Homo sapiens: one gene and its partner. The protein of the gene in region 2 purifies or fractionates together with the protein of the main gene of each other region. This does not show direct contact. Each region holds a gene or a part of one and is shown on either strand. Other genes may lie near its edges.

Evidence for each region.
Region 1: the proteins of ZFYVE16 (region 2) and STAM2 purify together in Homo sapiens (affinity purification with western blotting, with the first as the bait; one study listed by BioGRID). This does not show direct contact.

The regions. Positions count from the first base shown.
Region 1 is NC_000002.12:152,120,174-152,123,998, forward strand, and holds part of STAM2 (signal transducing adapter molecule 2), read right to left. Parts: intron 3,763-3,825; coding exon 3,593-3,762; intron 630-3,592; coding exon 401-629; 3' UTR 1-400.
Region 2 is NC_000005.10:80,414,312-80,418,136, reverse strand, and holds part of ZFYVE16 (zinc finger FYVE domain-containing protein 16), read right to left. Parts: intron 1-3,825.

The DNA of each region.
Region 1 (3,825 bases), on a different chromosome or scaffold from region 2:
AAGTATGAGATACTTTTGACAAACTCACTCTGTCGATCATGCTACTGCACTCCAGCCTGGGTGACAGAGCGAGTTTGTCATAAGTATCTCATACTGTTTGTCATAAGGCTACTTAATGAGTATCTAGATTTATGTAGAGAAATCTGAAAGTAAGACAAAACTAACTGAAAGCATCTTTAAGCTGCCTCTGATGAAAAGATTGACTTCAAACAAACTGGACTGAAAAAAAAAAAAAAAAAAAACCTTTTATGGCCTTGTAGAATAAGAGAGGTTTTTGTGCTTTATTTATTCATGGTCCTTTTGAGTTGAGAGGGAAAAAAGTTTTAATATTTTCAGGTTGGTATCACAAGGACTGAATAATACACTTATGAAGGCTTTCAAGAAAATGCTTGATTTGTTTCTAAAGGAGAGGCTGCTGATGGTAATTTGTGTGCTGCTGTGCAACTGGATGAGCTGGAACTGTCACCGGAAAGCCTGCCAGTTGAGGCAAATTGGAAGTAGTGTTCTGATAAGATGACATATCCACAGACATCCCCATTTGCTGTGTGTAAGCAGTTGTACCAGTAGCTGACTGTAGGTTAGAGTTCTGGTTCATATAAGTAGGATTGGAAACAGTGTCTTGTCCAGTGCTACAAACAAAATTTTAAAAAGAAAACCATATTTACTTTGCAATATATAAGGTTAGAGATCAATCATCATGACAAAAATGCCTTTTCCATCTTCTTTTTAAGCTTACGTAGCTCTGCTGTTCTGATTACAATTTAATCATTCCAGCCATTGAATACTGTTAATCAAATTTTCTTCTTCTTATTTTTGAGATGGGATCTTGCTCTGTTGCCCAGGCTGGGGTGCAGATCATAGCTCACTGCATTCTCAAACTCCTGGGCTCAAGCAATCCTCCTGCCTTAAGCCTCCTGAGTAGCTGGGACTATTTAAAAAAAATTTAAATTAGTCCCAACTAATTAAAAAAAAATTTTTGTTGTAGAGACTGGGTCTTGCTATGTTGCCCAGGATGGTCTCAAACTACTGGGCTCAAGTGATCCTCTGGCCTTGGCCTCTCAAAGCGTTGGGATTACAGGCATGAGCCACCATGCCGAGCTTGTTAATGTAATTTTTATATTTGGTAAGAAGAGAGAGGTACTTGAAAACAAACAAAATGTAAGATTCTAAGGCCAATTTAACTTCCCTTCTCCAGAATCTCTAACTAAAAACATTCAGAAACCACCTGAGGAGATGCAAACTGTTCCTGACAGAAGTACCCTTGGCCATTTGCAATGAGAATGGAGCCCTGGCTCAAGATGCCACTTTCAGCCCATATTCTCCCTTCCCCATCTCCCAATCCAGCACAAAGAAGTCCACCTCTTCTCTGTAAACATCCTTCAAGCTTTCCTTCAGTAAGGACTTTCTACTTTTAAAAGGAAAACAGCATAGTCTGTATAGGGCCCAAAATCAACCCTCAGGATAGTCCGAAACTATAGTTTCTTTATTGACACTTCACAAACTAAGCTGAAAAATCACACCAAATTGCAAGACTTGTTTGTTCCTATAACTACTGTGGCATACATTTCTCTTAAAATATATATACTTTTGGCTGGAAGCGGTGGCTCACACCTGTAATCCTAGCACTTTGGGAGGCCGAGGAGGGCGGATCACGAGGTCAGGAGATCGAGACCATCCTGGCTAACACAGTGAAACTCCGTCTCTACTACAAATACAAAAACAAAATTAGCTGGGTGTGGTGGCACGCGCCTGTAGTCCCAGCTACTCAGGAGGCTGAGGCAAGAGAATGGCATGAACCCGGGAGGTGGGGCTTGCAGTGACCCAAGATCATGCTGCTGCACTCCAGCCTGGGTGACAGAGTGAGACTCCGTCCCCAAAAAAAAAATATATATATATATATATATGTGTGTGTGTGTGTGTGTGTGTGTGTGTATACACATATATATACATACTATGCCCAGCGGTTTTAGGGCTGAGCTTGGAGGCTTATGGCTTTAATCCCAGCATTTTGGGAGGCCAAGGTGAGAGGATTGCTTGAGGTCAGCCTGCTTTGAGACCAGCCCAGGCAACATGGCAATACCCATCTCTACAAAAAATTAATAACATTAGCTGGGTGTAGTATGCGCCTGTGGTCTCAGCTACTCAGGAGTCAGAGGTTGGAAGATCCCTTAAGCCCGGGAGTTGGAGGCTGCAGTGAACTATGATCACACTACTGTACTTCAGCCTGGGTGATAAAACCCCATCTATAAAAAAAGTTTCAATAAAAAAAATTATGTAATTTTAAATTCCACCAAATATACTGCTTGCAATAAAAGAGAATTAGTTTCAAAACTACACCAGTTTTTTCTCCACAGTTCCTAGTGTTACCAAACATAGCAAAATTTTATATTTTATTCTAACTGAACACTAATATAAACAGATTTATTTAATATTCATATAATATCTAAAATTCATACTCATGGAGTTTGAGGGTGAGAAGAGACCTTATAGATCATCTACATATGATTATATTGAATGAACATTTTGTATGGTTAAGCAAAATGAATAGAAAGAAAGATTTAAATACAACTCTTAGAGTAAAAGTGTTTTTATTTAAAAAAAGAACTATAGGGCTGGGTGCAGTGGTGCATGCCTGTAATCCTAGCACTTTGAGCAGCCACAGCAGGCAGATCCCTTGAGCTCAGGAGTTTGAGACCAGCCTGGGCAACATGGCGAAACCCCACCTTGACAAAAAAATACAAAAATTAGCAGAACATGGTGGTGCTTGCCTGTAGTCCCAGCTACTGGAGAGGCTGATGAGGGTGGGTGGATAGCTTGAGACCGGGAGGTCAAGACTGTAGTGAGCTGAGATCATGCCACTGCACTCTATCCTGGGCGACTGAGTGAGACCTTGTCTTAAAAAAAAAAAAACTTGGCCAGGCGTGGTGGCTCACACCTATAATCCCAGCACTTTGGGAGGCTGAGGCGGGTGGAACATCACGAGGTCAGGAGTTCGAGACCAGCCTGACCAATATGCTGAAACCCCGTCTCTACTAAAAATACAAAAAAATTAGCTGGGCATGGTGGCGCGTGCCTGTAATCCCAGCTACTCAGGGGGCTGAGGCAGGAGAATCGCTTGAACCTGGAAGACGGAGGTTGCAGTAAGCAGAGATCTAGCCACTGCACTCCAGCCTGGGTGACAGAGGGAGACTCTGTCTCAAAAAAACAAAACAAAAAAACCTGAACTACAAATTCCACAGTTCAAACGCCCTTCTTAAGGGTCAAAGTAACAACAGTTTTCTAATTTTTAGGAGTGCATGCAGATAAATAAGTCTGGGACTACTTCACAGGCTGATTATAGCACAGTGCTAAGCACATCATGGGCTTAGTCTCATAAAGGACAATTAGCTTTTGCCCCAAGGATGCAGACTGTAAGCTTAAGGGCGGGCAATAATCTCAGTATGGGTAGCAAAGCTAAGGTAACACCATTCCACTTCACAGGATTATGAATAAACAGTTCTGTAACTTCATCTTAATAAGGGTCTATATATTCTCATTCTGAAAATCTAGGAAAATTAACACATATAAAATTAACACAGCTCCCAAAACTTACCTTAAATATGAAGTTTGAGCAGGCTGTGCTGTCACTGAGGAATTCACATTTGGAGGCAGAGATCTCAGTGGACCAATTTGATCGGGTCCTAGGCTATAGCTTTGGGCAACAGTTACTTGGTGAATGCTCTGACCCATATAGTTTCCACCATGTGATTGAACTGGATATGTCTATTAATCAGAAAGAAAAAGTTGATTCACTCATCTCCCAAACATGTGCCTAATAATATATTT
Region 2 (3,825 bases):
AATAATCCAATTTTAAAATTGGCAAAAGTACTGAATGGACATCTTACCAAAGAAGATATAAGGATGGAAAATAAGAATATGAAAAATGCTGAACATCATTTGTCTTTAGGGAACTGCAGATTAGAACAATGAGATATCCACTTCACATCTACTAGAATGTCACTGTGACAATGCCAAACAAGAGAAAATCTTATTATTGCCAGTGAGAATGCAAAATGGTATAGCTGCTTTGGAAGACTATTTGGCGGTCTCTTACAAAACTTACTACTACCATATAATCCAGCAATCATGTGCTACTAGGTATTTACTCATCTGATTTGAAAATTTACATTCACACAATAACTTGGATGTGAATGCATATAAACAGGTTTATTCATAACTGCCAAAAACTGGAAGCAATCAAGATGTACTTCATTAGGTATTTGGATAAACAAACCATCACACATCTATCCAATGGAATATTATTCAGTGATATAAAGAAAGAAGCTATCAAGCCACAAAAACACGAGTGAATCTTACTGTATACTGCCAAGTGAAAGAATTTACATACTACATGATTCTAATTATGTAACATTCTAGAAAAGGTAAAACTACAGAGACAGTAAAACACCAATGATAGCCAGTGGTTTAAAGTGGGGGAGAGTTGGATATGTGAAGCACAGACTTTTTAGGGTAGTAATGGTGAATATAAGATAATCACGTTAATAACCATATAACTTCAAAGCATAAAGAATAAACCTCAACATGCAAATTTTCAAAAAATTATTTAGGAGAATGGGGGATCCTAGATTGGCATGCAGACTGCGACAAAAAGTCTAACTATATTCCAAATGTATGAAACAACCTCATCACAGGGGACGTAGGAATAAGGTGCTGACCTTTGGAAATGAGTGGAATATGTAAGACTAAAGAAAGAAAAGACAGGCACTCTACCCTAGTTGATAAAGTTGTTTTCCATGGTGGTACAGGTTAACAATTCTGAAATCACTATATCTGTATACTGAAATTGAACAAGTAAGTAAATGGACGACTGATCGTGGAAGCCAAGTTTCTCCCTGTTGAAGGAGGAGGTTATGGCAGGGGAGGAAGATAAAATAATCTATATGGTAATGGATTTGAACTGAAGACATCAATATAAATTCATGTTCAGCTTAATATGGATACCGATGGTCACACATAGAAATATTTACAGATATATGTGTAATACAGGTTAGTATAAACACATATACTAACATATCTCCTTGTGTTTGTCAGCTTAGAGGGCCTAGAAGCAGTAACATCCCAGGGGCAACGAACATACTTAGCACCCAGATCTTGGTTTCTAATAAAATTCTCCAACAAAAGGAACCAAGTCTCCTTGGAAAAATGGCTGTTTCTAAAACTAGGGCAGGAAATAAACAAAATGAGCACAGAGCATCTTGTAATGCCAGAAAGTAAAAGTTGATGTACACACATACAACAATGGGAGTATGTCAAAGAGATACAAGACCCAAGTGAAAGAACTCCCAAAGGCCAAAGCTGGGACAAAATAAAAGAGCAGTACTGAAGTATAACCCAACACATTAAAAAAAAAAAAAAAATCGGCTGGGCGCAGTGTCTCTCGCCTGTAATCCCAGCACTTTGGGAGGCCGAGGCAGGCAATCACCTGAGGTCAAGAGATCGAGACCATCCTGGCCAACATGGTGAAACCCCATCTCTACTAAAAACACAAAAATTAGCCGGGCATGGTGCTGCGTGCCTATAATCCCAGCTACTTGTGAGGCTGAGGCAGGAGAATCGCTTGAACCCAGGAGGCGGAGGTTGCAGTGAGCCGAGATCACGCCACTGCACTCCAGCCTGGGCAACAGAGCGAGACTTTGTCTCAAAAAAAAAAAAAAAAAAAAAAAAAATCTATGTATTCATACTGACGTAAGTAAATGATTGAATAAATAATTGGGGAAAAGACAAATCTCCCACGCAAAAAAATAAAAAAAAAATCCAAATAATTTATTTAGACTCTTTGCTCTCAAGGAAGTAGAACTCCCCATTCCTTAAGTGTGCAGCGCACAGTGACTTTCTAGTAAAGAATACAGAAAGGGAGAAAAAAAGAAAATACTAACTTCAAAGTGAAGAAACCTAACAAACACTACCTCAAGTCAAGTGATCAAGGTTAACATTAAAAGTGGCAAGTTGGCCGGGCGTGGTGGCTCTCGCCTGTAATCCCAGCACTTTGGGAGGCTGAGGCGGGCAGATCACAAGGTCAAGAGTTGGAGACCAGCCTAATCAACATGGCGAAACCCCGTCTCTACTAAAAATACAAAAATTAGCCGGGTGTGGTGGCACGTGCCTGTAATCCCAGCTACTCAAGAGGCTGAGGCAGGAGAATCGCTTGAACCCGGTAGGCAGAGGTTGCAGTGAGCTGAGATCGCACCACTGCACTCCAGCCTGGGTGATAGAGGGAGACTCCATCTCAAAAAAAAAAGAAAAGTGGCAAGTCACACTGACAGTATGTATTGATGAAAATTGTACTTTATCTCTGTTGTCTTTCTCTCCGAAACACATTACCCCAATATAATAACGAGAAAAACATGAGACAAATCTCAACTGACATTCTACAAAACACCTGAGCAGTAACCCTCAAAACTTTCAAGAGCATCAAAAACAAGGAATGTCTGAGAACTATCACAATCAAGAGGTGCCTAAGGAGACAGGACTACTCAATGTAATGTGGTATCCTGGATGGGATCCTGGAACAGAAAAAGCATATTAGAGGAAAAATGAGGAAATGCGAATAAAGTATAGCCTTTAGTTAATAAAGTATCAATACTAGTTCACTAATTATAACAAATGTACCATATTAATCTAAGATGTTAATAATAAACTGGGTGTGGAGTATATAGGAACTCTATACTGTCTGCAATAATTCTGTAAATCTAAAACTGTTCCAAAATAAAATGTTTATTTTTAAAAATGCAATCAAGGTGTTATAAAATAAAGTTGAGAAAATATCCTAGAAAACAGAACAGAAAGGGATAGAAAACAGGAGAGAAAATATTAGAAATTAGAGAATCAATCTAATGAGGTTTAATATTCTAATAAAAGAAGTCCAGAAAGAAGGAAGGGAGGGAAAGAAGAAACTGTCAAATAAACCACGGATATGGTCTCCAAATGGAAAGGGCCCATTTGGGGCCCAACACATGAATGAAAAACTCTTACCAACCAACATCATTGTGAAATTTCAGAACACCTGAATGGTTGAAGGGAGGATCACCCCATTTAATACTACAGTCTGCATCCCCTACCTCTCCTTTCCCCAACATTCCTGAACTTCCCACCCCAGCCTGCTCTTTTTTCTCTTTTCTAAAGCAGTTATTTACTTTACAAACTCCCAATGTTTTGTATAATTTATTTATTATATTTGCTGTTGAACAACTCCTCCCTCCCTGAATTTAAGCTCTATAAGGACATGAATCTTGTATTTTTGTTCACCTATATATTCAAAATGTCTTGACCAGTGCCCGGCACATAAAATGTGCTCAATACATACTTGCTGAATAAATATAAACGCTTCCAAAGAGATATAACAGGTCACAATCAAAGGATTGGTTATCATAAATGTGAGGGTTAAATAAAAAAATGGTTGACCATGCAAGAACCCAAAATATGTGCATCCCATTCTGTCTCTCTCAGGAAGCTACTCAAAAACATACTCTGCCAATATAAGGGAGACACCAAGAAAAAGGAAAACCTGAAATCCAAGAAAAAGAGGCTACCCACACAGAAGAGACAAATGCAATTCACAGATGACTGTAAAAGGGCAGTCCAGGAAGAGAGTTGTGCAACAGG